Linked DNA regions of Homo sapiens. The gene in region 1 interacts genetically with each later gene. Each region holds a gene or a part of one and is shown in the gene's direction. Other genes may lie near its edges. The genes, in order: MRPL22, EIF4G1, EXOSC6, SEC22B and ACTL6A.

The links.
Region 2: changes in MRPL22 (region 1) and EIF4G1 together harm fitness more than expected from each alone (negative genetic interaction), as found in Homo sapiens cells (one large-scale study listed by BioGRID).
Region 3: changes in MRPL22 (region 1) and EXOSC6 together harm fitness more than expected from each alone (negative genetic interaction), as found in Homo sapiens cells (one large-scale study listed by BioGRID).
Region 4: changes in MRPL22 (region 1) and SEC22B together harm fitness more than expected from each alone (negative genetic interaction), as found in Homo sapiens cells (one large-scale study listed by BioGRID).
Region 5: changes in MRPL22 (region 1) and ACTL6A together harm fitness more than expected from each alone (negative genetic interaction), as found in Homo sapiens cells (one large-scale study listed by BioGRID).

What each region holds. Positions count from the first base shown.
Region 1 is NC_000005.10:154,954,550-154,958,204, forward strand, and holds part of MRPL22 (large ribosomal subunit protein uL22m), read left to right. Parts: intron 1-1,821; coding exon 1,822-1,887; intron 1,888-2,585; coding exon 2,586-2,663; intron 2,664-3,655.
Region 2 is NC_000003.12:184,321,096-184,324,750, forward strand, and holds part of EIF4G1 (eukaryotic translation initiation factor 4 gamma 1), read left to right. Parts: intron 1-186; coding exon 187-1,008; intron 1,009-1,266; coding exon 1,267-1,355; intron 1,356-1,448; coding exon 1,449-1,635; intron 1,636-1,725; coding exon 1,726-1,859; intron 1,860-1,987; coding exon 1,988-2,146; intron 2,147-2,309; coding exon of another isoform or gene 2,310-2,312; coding exon 2,313-2,498; intron 2,499-2,684; coding exon 2,685-2,882; intron 2,883-3,105; coding exon 3,106-3,252; intron 3,253-3,655.
Region 3 is NC_000016.10:70,246,184-70,249,142, reverse strand, and holds the end of EXOSC6 (exosome complex component MTR3), read left to right. Parts: 3' UTR 1-2,365; downstream 2,366-2,959. UniProt on the Homo sapiens protein: Non-catalytic component of the RNA exosome complex which has 3'->5' exoribonuclease activity and participates in a multitude of cellular RNA processing and degradation events.
Region 4 is NC_000001.11:120,159,452-120,163,106, reverse strand, and holds part of SEC22B (vesicle-trafficking protein SEC22b), read left to right. Parts: intron 1-2,576; coding exon 2,577-2,723; intron 2,724-3,655. UniProt on the Homo sapiens protein: SNARE involved in targeting and fusion of ER-derived transport vesicles with the Golgi complex as well as Golgi-derived retrograde transport vesicles with the ER.
Region 5 is NC_000003.12:179,569,338-179,572,992, forward strand, and holds part of ACTL6A (actin-like protein 6A), read left to right. Parts: intron 1-486; coding exon 487-563; intron 564-729; coding exon 730-904; intron 905-2,185; exon of another isoform or gene 2,186-2,433; intron 2,434-3,655.

The sequences.
Region 1 (3,655 bases):
CTCGTTTATCTTTAGAAAGTGCCCTTAGACATTTCACCTGCCCAAAGTAAATGCTGAGGTTTTTTTTCAGTTTTGGAAGAGGATGATTAACTTTTGCCTTTCTTGTAAACACTTCTTCCTTTTTGCCATCCTCTGGTCAGGATTACCATTGTTTATATGTGTAAAATTTGAGGGTAATCATACAAAATTAAGGTTTAAAATTATCCCACCACAAGAATGCACAAATTAAAGGGTCTCTTCTTTTTTATTTTTATTTTTTTGAGACGGAGTCTCGCTCTGTCGCCCAGGCTGGAGTGCAGTGGCGCAATCTCAGCTCACTACAAGCTCCACCTCCCGGGTTCATGGCATTCTCCCGCCTCAGCCTCCCGGGTAGCTGGGACCACAGGCGCCGGCCACCATGCCCGGCTAATTTTTTTTTTTTGTATTTTTAGTAGAGACGGGGTTTCACCATTCACAGGATGGTCTCGATCTCCTGACCTTGTGATCCGGCCGCCTCGGCCTCCCAAAGTGCTGGGATTACAGGCTGAGCCACTGCTCCCGGCCAAGGGTCTCTTCTATATGAAAGATTTCATTGAGTGGATTAATTTTTGCAGATTATTATTATCAGTCATGATAGTTCTTTCCTCTCCCTGTCTCCCCAAGAAACTTTATTGCTGAAAATGTAATTAGGCTATTGCTATAGTTTCAGGCTGTCTGCTTCTATTGCAACTGAAATCTGCCACATATTAAAAGATGGCCACTTGAGAAAACTGCTCTTTCTAAGGCATTTGAAAATTTCCAGCAGGAGTCAGAATGTTAGAAAGTTTTGAGACCTCCTTGCTATAGTTTTCCATAACACATGTTTTCTAATTTTTTTTTAAATGGCAGTTTGGTATAGTAGTGGAAAGAAAGTGGGTTTTAGAGTCAATAGAGGAACTTTTGAAAGTAGATGTGCTAGACATTGTATCAGGTGTATCATACTTCTCTGTTCTTTGAATTCCAACTTTGTCTCTTGCAAACCTCTGGTCTTAGACAAGTCACTTGATTTCTCTGATTTTCAGTTTATATGTAAAATGTTTCATCCCTCAACTCATAGAGTTAGACTAAATGAAATAATGAGTGAAAAGTGCTTTTTGAACTATACATTGTAATTAAACAGGACATACCTACAACTTTAAATAGAAGATAATAAAAGCTAACATTTACTGAGAAGTTACCATGTGCCAAGCACTATAAAATGGTTTCTTGAAATAGGTTACTTTATTTCCCTCTAATTATCGTTTTATTTATTTTACAGAAGAGGAAAATTAGAGAGAGGTTAAGTAGCTTGCTCAAGATTATGTAGCTAGTAAATGGCAGAGTTAGGATTCAAATCCAGGCAGGCAGTCTGATTCTAGAACCTATGCTGTTGGCCAAACACCTAGAATATTGGCTTTTCACATGAAAACACTTGTCCATTTTGCCATTTTTCTCCTCATTAATAATGAACGTTTTCTTGTACTTTTTCTTTTGTTCTTTTAATCAGCTAAATGTTTTAAAGATACTTTCATTTAAATCTTTTAGGATTTCTTTGGATAGAAATGTTGCAAGTGTTGACACAAACCAGCCATTGTATAGTTTCTATTTCTCCCGTAGTAATCTTTTAACATAGTGAGACTTTGGAAAAATACAACTTTGTGTAGGGGAAAATAATCTCTAAATTCTTAGTAATGTTTCTATTTCTTATGGCAGCATTTTCTTTAGGCCTAGAAAGTAAAAACTTAAATAACAGTATATGTTATTGTCATTTTGTGGTAAACCTGCTAACATTTTCTTTCTGTCCTTTTTTTTCCAATTTGTAAGGAAATCTACCACTGTCGAAGACAAATAAAATATAGCAAAGACAAGATGTGGTATTTGGCAAAATTGGTAAGCTGCAATGACTATTACCATATAATTAATAATTTAGGAAAGAAGCTATGAGTTCCCCTCCCCACCCCTCACCCCAGGATTTGAAAAATAAAAAAGATTTGTGAGGAATGTGATATAATTGGTAGGTTGTCAAAAGAATGATTGTTCAGAGATGTATGATTTTCCTTAATTTTCACCTTTTTCTGAGAAACTAAATCACATTGGATAGATAGATACTAAAAGGCATCAGGAGTTTGGCTATAACCAGAGAATCCAGGAAACCCACCTATTTATCTGTAAACTTGATTCAACCTGTTTTAAAACTGTTGCTTTTAAGTTTTTTTCCCTAGGAAATGAAATTTATAGATGAGGGGAGACTGAAGCAGCAAATATACATGTAATACATTTATCCTATAGGAGAAGGAGATGCCTTGAATGCCTAGTGTGGTTGTTACCAACCTGTGGTCTCTCTGTCATGTTTGCTGTCTTTTAATGTTATTGAAACTATTATAATCTCAGTTTTATGGTTAAAATGTTTGTTTCATTTTGACTGAAAGAGAATAGTGTCTCCTCTCAAACTTGTTTTCTTCTCTTTTATTTGGGTTCAATTCACTGTTTTTAGAAGTTACTCAAATTATGTAAGACTTTCATTGAAAAGGAAACATTGACTTTGTAAACTAATTTATTTTCTTTTGTCTCTCACCCTTTAATTCTAGATACGAGGAATGTCTATTGACCAGGCTTTGGCTCAGTTGGAATTCAATGACAAAAAAGGGGCCAAAATAATTAAAGAGGTAAACTTACAAGTTTGGGTGTGGTAGGGAATGGGGAACTGGGGAATGCAGCTGTCTTGCAATTATTAGTAAGCTTAGCCTAAATCATGAATTCCCTAAATTTTCTGTTGTAAATGCATACTTTATATAATACAGATTTAGGGTTCTCAGTTTATTAAATATGTGTATACTTTAGGAATGTTGTGTGCTTTAGGGTTTATTTCCTGAGGTGCTTTTATTTCCACCAAATATTTATCTGTTTTTTACTGCTTATGATGTGATGAATCTTATTTTTAATGATTTGGGGCTTGGTACGTATATGTGTGTATTTGTGTGTATGTATGTGTGTTTGTGTATATAATTTATTTCTTGGAGCAAGGCTGAACTTCAAGGTATATTTTTTTGAAGATTTTTTTTTTCCTATAAAGGAGAGTTTTTATAACTAAGTAATTTTGTAACTAAATGGAAAGAGCCCTGGACTGGAACTCAAGAGACTTGGACTCTAGTCCTTTCTCTGATCTTTTTCTTGTGACCGTGGGCAAGACACTTAACCAGTCAGTTTCTATTTTTCTCACCTAAACTATGTGGAATTGGATTAGATGACCCCTAAAGATCCTTCCAACTCTAAATGTAGCTAATTCACTAGATACAAATGTGCTGATGGTAATTGTGGTGACTCTTTCTAGGAACATGAATATTCTTTTTTTATTACATATATTTTTCTTTTTTTTTTTTTTTTTTTTGAGACGGAGTCTAGCTCTGTTGCACAGGCTGGGGTGCAGTGGCGCCATCTTGGCTCACTGCAGTCTCCGCCTCCTGCGTTCAAGCGATTCTTCTGCCTCAGCCTCCCGAGTAGCTGGGACTACAGCTGCGCGCCACCATACGCGGCTAATATTTTTGTATTTTTAGTAGAGATGGGATTTCACCATATTGGCCAGGCTGGTCTTGAACTCCTGACCTCAGGCGATCCGCCCACCTCAGCCTCCCAAAGTGCTGGGATTACAGGCGTGAGC
Region 2 (3,655 bases), on another chromosome or scaffold:
CTTAGATTTCAGGTTGTGGGATTTTGAGGGTGAATTGGGTTTTGGATGAAAGTGGAAGTATAGCTTAGGTGGGGAGAAGATGATGCGGGGTTATTAAGTTGGGAATGCCTGGGCTGGAGGATGGGGAGGAACAACAGCAGTTAAGCACTTGCCTTTAGTTGCTCATTCTTCCTTCCTATGGTGCAGATGACCGGTCACAGGGAGCAATCATTGCTGACCGGCCAGGGCTGCCTGGCCCAGAGCATAGCCCTTCAGAATCCCAGCCTTCGTCGCCTTCTCCGACCCCATCACCATCCCCAGTCTTGGAACCGGGGTCTGAGCCTAATCTCGCAGTCCTCTCTATTCCTGGGGACACTATGACAACTATACAAATGTCTGTAGAAGAATCAACCCCCATCTCCCGTGAAACTGGGGAGCCATATCGCCTCTCTCCAGAACCCACTCCTCTCGCCGAACCCATACTGGAAGTAGAAGTGACACTTAGCAAACCGGTTCCAGAATCTGAGTTTTCTTCCAGTCCTCTCCAGGCTCCCACCCCTTTGGCATCTCACACAGTGGAAATTCATGAGCCTAATGGCATGGTCCCATCTGAAGATCTGGAACCAGAGGTGGAGTCAAGCCCAGAGCTTGCTCCTCCCCCAGCTTGCCCCTCCGAATCCCCTGTGCCCATTGCTCCAACTGCCCAACCTGAGGAACTGCTCAACGGAGCCCCCTCGCCACCAGCTGTGGACTTAAGCCCAGTCAGTGAGCCAGAGGAGCAGGCCAAGGAGGTGACAGCATCAATGGCGCCCCCCACCATCCCCTCTGCTACTCCAGCTACGGCTCCTTCAGCTACTTCCCCAGCTCAGGAGGAGGAAATGGAAGAAGAAGAAGAAGAGGAAGAAGGAGAAGCAGGAGAAGCAGGAGAAGCTGAGAGTGAGAAAGGAGGAGAGGAACTGCTCCCCCCAGAGAGTACCCCTATTCCAGCCAACTTGTCTCAGAATTTGGAGGCAGCAGCAGCCACTCAAGGTAAGGTGTGGTTGGACGGTAGAGGTAGGGCGGGCTAGGGGATATCGTTCCTTGCCCTCCTTGATGACCGCCCATTTTTGACATGTTTCTGGGTCCCTGCAATGGAATCTAAGAACTAGATTAAGGACTTTTAAGCCTAAAAAGGGTGATGCAAAGGGGAAATACTGTTCTTTGGCTGCTTTCTATTTCCCAGGGATTAAGGGTACTCCTTAAATTATTGGCAAAGATCCATGCTTTTATTTATTTATTTTTAATTAGTGGCAGTATCTGTGCCAAAGAGGAGACGGAAAATTAAGGAGCTAAATAAGAAGGAGGCTGTTGGAGACCTTCTGGATGCCTTCAAGGAGGTAAGGGAGCAGAAAATGGGAGGGGAGAGGGCCAAGTTGAGGTATGGAGCAGTGGTCATTCTGCAACCAAAACTGGATGTTCTGTTGTTCTAGGCGAACCCGGCAGTACCAGAGGTGGAAAATCAGCCTCCTGCAGGCAGCAATCCAGGCCCAGAGTCTGAGGGCAGTGGTGTGCCCCCACGTCCTGAGGAAGCAGATGAGACCTGGGACTCAAAGGAAGACAAAATTCACAATGCTGAGAACATCCAGCCCGGGGAACAGAAGTATGAATATAAGTCAGGTATGCTGAAGAAAGGGTTGAGAATGGCTTGAGTTTTCTTATTAGGGCCAGAGGAGGCAGTATGATTGCTTCATTCTGTTTTCCTTGCAGATCAGTGGAAGCCTCTAAACCTAGAGGAGAAAAAACGTTACGACCGTGAGTTCCTGCTTGGTTTTCAGTTCATCTTTGCCAGTATGCAGAAGCCAGAGGGATTGCCACATATCAGTGACGTGGTGCTGGACAAGGTTAGTGGCTTCAGTTGGGGAGGGGACGATAAGTTTGTGCTGGATGGATTGGGGAGGAGCCTGAGGTCCTGAAAGAGTAGTCAACCGCTCTAGCCTGCTTCTGAGACCTTTTCCTGTCCTCTTTGCAGGCCAATAAAACACCACTGCGGCCACTGGATCCCACTAGACTACAAGGCATAAATTGTGGCCCAGACTTCACTCCATCCTTTGCCAACCTTGGCCGGACAACCCTTAGCACCCGTGGGCCCCCAAGGGGTGGGCCAGGTGGGGAGCTGCCCCGTGGGCCGGTGAGTGGGGCTGGGTAAAGTGGCAGGTGGGCAAGGAGTGGGAGTGGATGATTCCGTGTCTCAGTGCCCGCGGGGAGGGGTTTGCCCTGGAGGCGTGTAGTAGTGGTGTCACATATTGTGCTGACTAGTTCCATGTCCCCTCTTGTCTTCATCCCTTGCTTAGCAGGCTGGCCTGGGACCCCGGCGCTCTCAGCAGGGACCCCGAAAAGAACCACGCAAGATCATTGCCACAGTGTTAATGACCGAAGATATAAAACTGAACAAAGCAGAGAAAGCCTGGAAACCCAGCAGCAAGCGGACGGCGGCTGATAAGGATCGAGGGGAAGAAGATGCTGATGGCAGCAAAACCCAGGTACTGGCAAGTCCTGCTTTTGGTCTCTCTCCATTTCTTCTCCAGGTCTGCCATCTGTGCCCTCTTTGCTTCTTTTTGTCCTTATCACTAGCATCTGTCATGCCTAAGTCCCCACCACCCTCTCCTGTCCCTCCCAACAGCCTGTTCTGAGACCCTCACTGGAACTCTTGTCTCTTCTCCCTCCAGGACCTATTCCGCAGGGTGCGCTCCATCCTGAATAAACTGACACCCCAGATGTTCCAGCAGCTGATGAAGCAAGTGACGCAGCTGGCCATCGACACCGAGGAACGCCTCAAAGGGGTCATTGACCTCATTTTTGAGAAGGCCATTTCAGAGCCCAACTTCTCTGTGGCCTATGCCAACATGTGCCGCTGCCTCATGGCGGTTAGTTTCCAGTGGGTTCTAAATCTAATGGTCTGGTTGCCCATTCCTATTCCCAAGACTCCTTGAGTCCAGCTTCTTGGTTCCCCTCCAACTTGTGCCTCTTCCAGCTGGAAGGAGGCAGAGCTGGGGCCAGAGATCTTCCTGGGTCAGGTAGTTAAAGGCTCTTGGAGGGCCTTCCCTGCCCAGGACTAGTCTTGAGTGTGACATTCTCTCTGACCTACAGCTGAAAGTGCCCACTACGGAAAAGCCAACAGTGACTGTGAACTTCCGAAAGCTGTTGTTGAATCGATGTCAGAAGGAGTTTGAGAAAGACAAAGATGATGATGAGGTTTTTGAGAAGAAGCAAAAAGAGATGGATGAAGCTGCTACGGTGAGAGAAAACCCACTATCGATTCCACTCACCACTTACCTCCTTCCCTTACCCAGATGCTACTCAGCTGTAGAATTTGGAATGGAGGTAGTGGTGTCTTGGGGATTTCTCTGGCTCAGGACGTTTTTTTTCCTTTTTGAGACAGTCTTGCTCTGTCACCCAGGCTGGAGTGCAGTGGTGTGATCTTGGCTAGCCTCCACCTCCTGAGTTCAAGCGATTCTCCTGCCTCAGCCTCCCAAGTAGCTGGGATTACAGGCATGTGCCACCATACCTGGCTAATTTTTTTGTATTTTTAATAGAGACGGGGTTTTACCATGTTGGCCAAGCTGGTCTCAAACTCCTCCTGACCTCAAGTGATCCGCCTGCCTCAGCCTCCCAAATTGATGGGATTACAGGCATGAGC
Region 3 (2,959 bases), on another chromosome or scaffold:
ACTATCATGAGCCACCACACCTGGCCTAAAAGATCATTGATTTAGTTTTGAGTAAGATTTTAAGTGATTAAATTATGGTATTGTTGTGTCTGGAATATCTGATATTAGGGTTTTTTTTTTTTTTTTTTACAGTTTTTGATATGCTTTATTTTGGGTATGTAGTTTACAAAATATAAAGGAAATATAAGGAGTGTTCTCTTTTTTTTTTAAATAAAAAGTGTATTTTTAACTGGGCATGGTGGCTCACTCCTGTAACCCCAGCACTGTGGGAGGCTGAGGCTGGTGAATCGCCTGAGTCCAGGAGTTTGAGACCAGCCTGGGCAACAAGGTGAAACCCTGTTTCTATCAAAAAAAAAAAAAAAAAAAAAAAAGGAAAAAAAATAAGTCAGGCATGGTGGTATGCACCTGTAGTCCCAGCTACTTGAAGGCTGAGGCAGGAGGATCGCTTGTGCCTGGGAGGTTGAAGCTACAGTGAGCTATGGTCAAGCTACTGCACTCCATTATAGGCAACCCTATCTCAAAAAAGCAAAGCAAAACAAAACATTTTTCCCCTTGATTATAGAGGTTTGAGAAAAATTTGAGGGAAGATTCAGAAAATTACCTGTAACTGAACAGAATGCCACCAGCTTGGGCTTATTCTGCATGCATAATTATGAACATTTTCCCAGCTCTTGTGAAAATTCTCACATTCATAGAAAGATAGATGCACCAGTAAAATAAATACCTGTAAATACGATAATAATTTCATAATAATATGCTTCACCTAGATTTACCAGTTACTAATATTTTGCCAGTTTTATTTTCTCACACACTTTTGTTGAGCATCTGAAAACCATACACATGATGACAGTTCAACCCATAATGTTTTAGTTTGCATCTCCCAAGAATAAGGTTTTTCTTCTGTATAACAAGAATATTGTAATCATACCTAAGAAAATGAATTTTATTACATATGTGTTCTATATTCAAATTTCTGTAATTACCCCTAAGATGTCTTTTAAATGATTTTTAGCATTGATAGTCTGTGCCTGTGTAGATTATAACATTGGCTATTGCAAAATAATGGTTTTCTTTTTCTCTTTTTTTTTGAGACGAAATCTTGCTCTATTGTCCAAGCTGGAGGGCAGTGGCACAATCTCGGCTCACTGCAACCTCCGCCTCCCAGGTTCAAGCAGTTCTCATGCTTCACCCTCCTGAGTAGCTGGGATTACAGGCAGGTGCCACTGTGCTCTGCTAATTTTTATATTTTTAGTAGAGACGGAGTTTCATCGAGCTGGCCAGACTGGTCTTGAACTCCTGACCTCAAGTGATCCACCTGCCTCGTCCTCCCAAAGTGCTGGGGTTACAGGTGTGAGCCACTGCACCCAGCCTAAAATGATGGTTTTCTGATTCTAGCATTTCTTTTATAAGATTGCTATGTAAAGCACAGCTTTTCTTTTTTTAGGGAAAAATGTCTTTTAACAGCTGCAAAATAAATATTCTTTCAATGGAATGACAATTATTATTTTTGCCATATATTTATTTTAAAAATTTATGTATAATGGTAACCTGAGCCTGCATGTTATTCATGTGTGGTGCCATACTGATCTTTAATTTTAATGTGAAGCAAGTACTAATATAGTAAAGCATAAATTATATAAAATTTGCTTTATATTTTGGATTGCAAATTAATTGCTGTACTTTATAGAAAAGTTTCCCAAATCCGTTTTACTTTTTTGTATTTGAAATTTAATCACAGGTGGAATCTTAAAGAGAGCATTTAGGGATATTGTAAACAGATGTTATTAAGGACTAATGTTAACAAACATTGAAGAAGAGAAAACAGTATTTGTTTTTAGCTTAACATCTTAGTGGAGTGAAATATTTTCAGTATATTTATTTTATTTATTTATTAATTATTTTTTTTTTTGAGATGGAGTCTGGCTGTATTGTCCAGGCTGGAGTGCAGCGGTGCAATCTCAGCTCACTGCAACCTCTGCCTCCTGGGTTCAAGCGATTCTTGTGTCTCAGCCTCCCGAGTAGTTGGGATTTACAAGTCAATTTTTTTTTTAACTAAAACTACAGAATCTATTTTTCTTGGTCTCATACTCAGTTTTTTATGTAGTCACTTAGTAAATAACCTAATTTGCTTGTTTTCTCCACACTAATTTTAGGGTGAATTCCTCATTTCGCTTTTCAGATCATGGGGTGAGGGGGATGGTTGTGTGTGTGAGGAACTGAGGAATCAGATGGAAAACAATGCCTCTGCTCCTTTGAGTATAATCAGTGATATTTGAGGTTCCAGGGTTAAATGCTGCATTTTTATTTCTGACGTTCGTACCTTAAAATATTTGAAGAAAATAAACTATTTCATTGTTGTCAGAAATGTAGTTCTTTTATTTTCCTGCCCCTCTCCCCTTTCTAAGTTTCTAGAATGTTGAGTAGGTAGAACATAGATGCTCCTTTTAGGATCTTTTGCTGTGGAATGGTCCACAGGTGAATGGCAGTAATATCTTAAAATGATTGGCCCCCTCTCTCTTTGTTTCCATCAAGGATACAGTTGATATATTAGTTGGATGGCATATAGATCATACTCAGAAACCTTCGCTCACGCAGCAGGTATCTGGTAAGTCTTGCAGCCTATACCAGTTATTTAAATACTGTCGGGGAGGAGCAGTGGTCCCCCAGTGACCATCTATCAATAACATTTCTTTAATAATGCAAGAAAACTAATTCAGAGAAATGTTATATTGTAAATGAACATTACTTGTTAGCTAAATATATATTTTCAGAAGAAATTACTAGTAGGTGGGTAGAATAAGTACAGACAGGACTTACCCAAGTTATTTGTAGTTTGTACTGGTAGGAAAAAGTATATGGTAAGAATATATTGCAGTGGCAATACCCTGAAGTGGACAATGGAAGATCCAAGTTATTTGTAACATTTTATTGTTTTTCTGGTTATTTTTTTAAAAAAGGA
Region 4 (3,655 bases), on another chromosome or scaffold:
TGCTGAAGTTTTAGCTTCTGCATCCTTTTCCATTCCACTTCTTTTTGTCTTTTTGAGTGACTAAGGCTTTGTTCTGAAAAGTAATTTTCTCTAGTCTTTTGATCTTTCCCCCATAGAAATTGTTGCCTTTTGCCCTTTCTGTTATTTGGTTTGATTCTTCTTTAGAGTCACATGTGACAGGAACTGTGCCTAAAGATCTACTTGATTGGCATATAATGGCTGAGTTCTTCTTTACCCCAGTCCACAGACTCACACTCACAATAAGGCTCATTTTATGGAGATCAGAATTGGGAAATCAGAAAGAATGATGTTTTGTTTCTTTTAGTAGAATAAGATCCTCTAATTAAAAAAACAAAACATAACAAAGAAATAGAAGATACCTGGTACTCATGGTATTGGGGTATAATATTTACTACATTCAGGAATAGTGAGCATAGGTGTCTGTATTTGTGCAAGAATTATAGAAAGACTAATTACTAATCAGACCTGGTAAAGTATCTGATGGTAAGGGATCAAAGGAAATGTCCTAAGTACAGTAAGTACAGGGAGTGAGAACAAGTAGGATCAGGCTATATCGCTGAAATTTTTAGTTAAAAGAGAAATTGGTTTTACTGGCTTAGAATTTTTGAAGTGTTTCAAGTTTGCTAGATAAATGGGTCATCTTGCTTTGGAAAAACACTCTAGTGTTTCATAACTATATACTCTCCAAGTGCTGCTTTATATAATGTCCAGTTTTTCAAATTTTATTTTTATAGACAGTAATACTCCCATAAACCTCCCTCAAAAATAAGACAAATGTATCAGGGTCATACAGGAAACAGATGGCACACCCAAATTAGCTTAAGGGATTATATACAAAGATATGACTAGGCTGTAGGAGAATTACAAGGTACAGTAACCTCTGACCAGTAGCATACTGGTTGTTACCATCCCTAGGCCTGAATGTATAAGGGGGAGGAGCAGTTTCTGAAACTGAAAAGGAGAAAATTTCTAGAGAAGGCCAACTTGAGAGGAGCGTAACTTTTGGTAGAGGGATACTTCCAGAAGAAGGTTATTTCCTTCTCTGAAAGAAGCCAGGGGAATAAATACCCGGACATCACTCACTGTCTGTTCTCCTTCTTCCCTACTGTTGGGGCTTCTTCATTGCCTGAACCTAACTGGCACAGAGCAAGGAGTCTTGAGGCGCTTCATCCAAGTCAGCTTCCCAGTGCAGAAAGCAAGGTGCAGGAGGGCAGAGAGGAGATCTAAAGAGGCAAATGAAAGGGGTACAGCACACTTAAATTAAGATTTTTGCCAAAAGTTGAAAATATCTTTAATAATAAGTCATTCTTCCTATAGTTTTGAGAAATACTGATATGAGCAAAAGATGGATGAGACTTCAGTTTTTATTTATTTATTTATTTACTTAGAGACAGAGTCTCGCTCTATTGCCCAGGCTGGGGTGCAGTGGCATGATTTTGGCTAACTGCAACCTCTGCCTCCTAGGTTCAAGTGATTCTTGTGCCTCAGCCTCCTGAATAGCTGGGACTAGAGGTGCACGCTGCCATGACCAGCTAGCTAATTTCGGTATTTTTGGTAGAGATGGGAGTTTTGCCTTGTTGGCCAGGCTGGTCTCGAATTCCTGGCCTCAAGTGATCCACCCATCTTGGCCTCCCAAAATGCTGGGATTTATACGTGTGAGACACAGTGCCTGGCCGAGACTTCAGTTCAGTTTTGTATTGGTATTTTGGAAAACTCCCTATTACATATTTGCTTTACCTGAGGTTTAAGAATGGAATGAAACTGGGAATGTATATTAGAGAAAAGGTAAAGTTTCTCAGCTTTTTAATGATCATGAACCCTTTTGCCATGTTAGGCTGTAATAATGCTAGAGTGTTACCAGCATCCTTTTAAGGAATGTGTAGAGGTAAGTAACACTTAGCCTAAGGGTCCTCAGAATACTGTTTGAAAATTTCTGTTTTCAGGAAAGGCTTACTATAGTGGGTCTTAATTTCTCTAAGGATTCTGATAGCAGCCTTAGATAGCAAATACTTCTAATTCAAAGGTATTCAAAGGACATTTCTCCTGAATGGTCGTCTAATTATACCTTTACATCTTACAAATGAAATAATCAAAGCCTAGATTTTGATATTCAACCAAGAGTTTGGTTAACCATGGACAGTGGCAAATCCAGGAATAAACTCAGAACTGTTTTGGTTTTTTTTTTTTTGTTTTTGAGACAGAGTCTTGCTCTGTCACCCAGGCTAAAGTGTGGTGGTGGTGTGATCTCGGCTCACTGCAACCTCTGCCTCCCAAGTTCAAGTGATTCTCCTGGCTCAGCCTCCTGAGTAGCTGGGATTATAGGCGTGTGCCGCCACGCCTGGCTAACTTTTTATATTTTTAGTAGAGACGGGGTTTCACTGTGTTAGCCAGGATGGTCTCGATTTCCTGACCTCATGATTCACCTGCCTTGGCCTCCCAAAGTGCTGGGATTACAGGTGTGAGCCACCGCGCCTGGCCAACTCAGAACTTTTAATCTCCTACCTCAGTACTTTGATGGCCATGAAAGAAATGGTCAGTTTTCTTCATCATTCTAGATACTTTCATTCAGAAAACCAAGAAGCTCTACATTGACAGTCGTGCTCGAAGAAATCTAGGCTCCATCAACACTGAATTGCAAGATGTGCAGAGGATCATGGTGGCCAATATTGAAGAAGTGTTACAACGAGGAGAAGCACTCTCAGGTATCTAAAAGCAATGAGTCTTATGAAGAAATGGTTCTCATTCCATAGACAAGGATAGCTTATTTTGCAGTGCCTTTTATGCTATTAGATTCTACCTAGAACTGTTAAGAATTTATCTCCCAGAAGTACATTACATTACAATGCTTCCAATATATTTTTTTTCCTAGCATGATTAGTTTTTGTTGAGTTGGAACAGTGTAAAGGACTCATCCATATTAGAAGCAATGATTATTTCTAAGATATTCACAAAATTAATTAAATTATATAACTTGTATAAATTAAGGGAAATGAATGAGAGAAAACTCAATGATGTATTGCAGTGGTTTTTTGAGTAGCCTCTTTGGGAGACTTTACTGCTGCCAGATCAATCTTTATAAAATGCCATTTTCATCAAGGCATTCCTCTGAAAAACTTTTAAATCTGGGACTACAAGATAAGATCCAGTCTGACTTATTTTTCCGTCAGTCAGCCATTGTTATTGAGAGCTTGTTATTTGTAAGGCATTGTGCTCTACATATGGAAAATAAGGAAGATGCAAATGTCTGTCATTCTCTAGTTCACAAACATTCTTCTGTAGCCACACCAGCTTCTTTACTATCCTTAGTGGTCTATTCTGCCTTATGCTGGACCTGTTCTGTAAGACCTCCATAAGAACTGTCTCTTTAAAGAACCTTTCTCTGATCCTTATAGCCTGTATCACATTAATCTCTTCTGTACTTTAAACTCCTAAAGCACTTAATAACATAATGGTTTTAGCACATATTACATGTATGTGTGTTTACCTAATTTACCTTAAATATATTTATTAAATACCTCTTACCATATTAAATATATATTTAATATATATTAAATATATTTCCATATAACATAAGTATATATTTCATATATTTATATTAAAGTAGGCAAACATATTTGGATAATTAAATATTTTT
Region 5 (3,655 bases), on another chromosome or scaffold:
GGGTACTGTACTGTCCCTTCTGGTTGTCCTGTATTTCACCTATATCTTTGCAAATAATTCCCTTTAATAAGTAAACTGAAATTACCCAGTTTTAGTGTACCATTTCTTAACTGATTGAACCTCTACTTAAATACGGTGTATGCCTTGTTATATTTTAATTAAATGATTCTTTAAGGTGTATTTGAAACTAGGTTCAAGTGAGTAATAATATGAATATAATTGGGCTGAGTGCAGTGGCTCATGCCTGCAGCACTTTGGGATGCTGAGGCAGAGGATTGCTTGAGCCCTGGAGTTTGAGTCCAGCCTGGGCAACATAGTGAGACCTTATGTCTACAAAAAATTTAAGAAATTCATTGTAGTCCCAGCTATTTGGAAGACTGAGGCGGGAGGATTGCTTGAGCCTAGGAGGTTGAGGCTGCAGTGAGCTGTGATTTTCATATGATACTTTTGCAAGCTGTTAATGCTAATTATCTTTAATCTTTTCAGATGAAGTTGGAGCCCTTGTTTTTGACATTGGATCCTATACTGTGAGAGCTGGTTATGCTGGTGAGGACTGCCCCAAGGTAAGTGTAATGTTAGAGTTAATTGGATATGTAAAGCCATTCATGTAAATTAAATTTATGCAGAAATTCTGATTCAAAACAAAATATAATAAAATACATTAATTGGGGAAAAAATGCCTTCTTGATGAAAGGTGAAACTTGTATGTCATGTTTCTGACTCTTACAGGTGGATTTTCCTACAGCTATTGGTATGGTGGTAGAAAGAGATGACGGAAGCACATTAATGGAAATAGATGGCGATAAAGGCAAACAAGGCGGTCCCACCTACTACATAGATACTAATGCTCTGCGTGTTCCGAGGGAGAATATGGAGGCCATTTCACCTCTAAAAAATGGGATGGGTATGATGTTTTCCCCATGGAATTGATTATGGAGTGTACATGTTATATTTTAGATACAAAGTAGTAGCTTCCTATAAGTTGAACATCAACCATGGTTTTTTGTTTTGTTTTGTTTTTTATTCCACAAACTGATTTCCAGACACTGAGAATACAAAGATGCATAAGAAATGTTCCTTTTCATTAAAAGCTTACAGTTAGTTGGGGGAAATAGATGTATATATACAAATAATGGTACACTGTGGGATAAGTGGTACAATATAGGTATGTGCAATGAGCAATGGGATTAGAGAGGAGAGGTATTTGACTCTAGTGTTGGGAGTCAGTGATGGTTTTCACAAAGGAGGTAACATGATGAATCTTGATCAATGAGTAAGAATTAGCTTGGCTGACAAAGCTGGGTAAAGCAAAGGGACCAGCATGTGTGAAGGGATGGAATTGTGAAAGAAACTTATGTGCTTGAAAATGTAATACAATTAAGTATGGTTGCAGCATTGGGCTTATTAGGGTCAGTAGCAGGAAAGGTAGGCAGAGAGCAGTAGCAGGAAAGGTAGGCAGGGAGCAGTCATAAAAGGGCTTGTAAACCATCCCAGGGTTGTATTAAGCTAGTGACTGAAGGATAACCCCAAAGGAATTTAAACAGATGTGATGGTCAGAGTCCAGATGAGAAATGAAAAAGGTTTAAACTATTATATAATGCTGGTAGAGATTCTGAAGGGACTTTCAGGGTAACCAGGAGACAAATGGTACTAAATGATCGAGGGAGTGAAAGCAAGAGAGAAGTTGAGAAAGTTTCCTAGATTTTTGGTTGGGGTAACTCTGAACAGAGAGTACCATGCATTGAGATAGGAATATAAAGGGAAGGAGCAAGTGTTACGGTTTTAAAAGGCATGGTTGGCCATGCGTGGTGGCTCGCGCCTATATAATCCCAGCACTTTGGGAGGCTGAGACTGTGGGTGGATTGCTTGAGTCTAGGAGTTTGAGACCAGCCTGGGCAACATGGCGAAACCCCATCTCTACTAAAAATACAAAAATTTGACAGGTGTGGTGATGCGTACCACCTGTAATTCCAGCTACTTGGGAGGCTGAGGCATGAGAATCACTTGAACCCAGGATGCAGAGGTTGCAGCTGAGATCTCATGACTACACACCAACCTGGGTGACAGAGTGAGACTCTGTCTCAAAAAAAAAAACAAAAAAAAAAAACAAGCTTATCAGGGATAGCCAAAATCACTCTCAGGTTCAATTATTCACCAGCAAGACTCACTCACAGGACTCAGCATATGGTTGTATTCACAGCTAAGATTTATTGTACTGAAGATTCAGATACAAAACAAAATCGACAAAGGGAAAAGGGACAGGGGATGATGAAGTCCAGATACAGGCTTTGGAGAGTCTTCTCACAGTGGAGTCACACAGGATGTGCTTAATCCCTCCAGCAACAAGTTATGATCTGTGTTACCTTCCAGGAGAACTCTGAGGCTCAGTACCCAAGGATTTTACAGAGGGCTGGTTATGTAGGTACCATCTACCTGGCATGTAACAAAATTTTAGATTCTCAGAAGGAAAGCAAGTGTTCAGAACAAACCACATTGTATAAACAGTGTAGGTATAGCGAGCTACCCTTACCATTTAGGGACAAGTTTTATATGAACATAGGGAACTGTTTGCCAGTCATGTTTCCAGACACCAGCTAAGAGTCAGCCTTACAAGCAGGCCTTTCTCAGGCTTGCAGTGTTAACTCTTTCATGTGTAGTAAGTAAATGGGTTCACTGAGTTCAAAGTACTTAGAACATCCAGGTGATAATTCAGTAAACGGGAATAAAAGGTTATAAGAAAGATTTTAAGACATGGAGTTGCATTTTATTACTCTGAAAAAAATTGGAACATGAGAAGAGGATTGAAGATGGAGTTCTAGCAAAAACTTGTTGTATATTTTAACCAATAGAGAATAAAAGGTACCCTTGAAGGAGAAAGAAAGGGAACAATTAGGGATGTAGGAAAAAAAGCAGGGGAAGAACAAGAAAAGAAAAAGTTTCTGGAAGCATAAAATTCCAGTTATTCTCGGTGTTTTCTGCTGTGACATTGAAAGCTTTACACTAAGAAAGAAGTTAAAAAAATCCAGGTGGGCCTGTGGAAATATATAATTAATGACATTTTTTCTTTGGGCTGTGACAGAAAAGTTTGTAAACTCTTGTGTAGGCAATACTGTCATAATTTAGAGAAGTCAGATGAGATTAAAAATGTTAAGTATCCATGAATTTGCCTAGTAGAAGGTCATTAGTGGCTGGGGGCGGTGGCTCACGCCTGTAATCCCAGCACTTTGGAGGCTGAGGTGGGTGGATCACCTGAGGTCAGGAGTTCGAGACCAGCCTGGCCAACATGGTGAAACCCTGTCTCTACTAAAAATGCAAAAATTAGTTGGGTACGGTGGCGGGCACCTGTAATCCCAGCTACTCGGGAGCCTGAGGGAGGAGAATTGCTTGACCCCAGGAGGCGGAGGTTGCAGTGAGCTGAGATTGTGCCATTGCACTCCAGTGTGGGGGACAGAACGAGACTCCATCTCAAAAAAAAGAAAAAAGAAGGTCATTAGTGACTTATGTCAGTAGTTTTAATGGAATGTTTAGGTGGAAGCCAAATTGAAGACAGATGCTCTTCTTTGAATTTTTAACATGTCTTTTAGTCTTTTTCCAAATAGATTGTAAGTTTTTTTGAGTGTCGGGTCTAGACCATACAATTCTTTCTTTTTTTTTT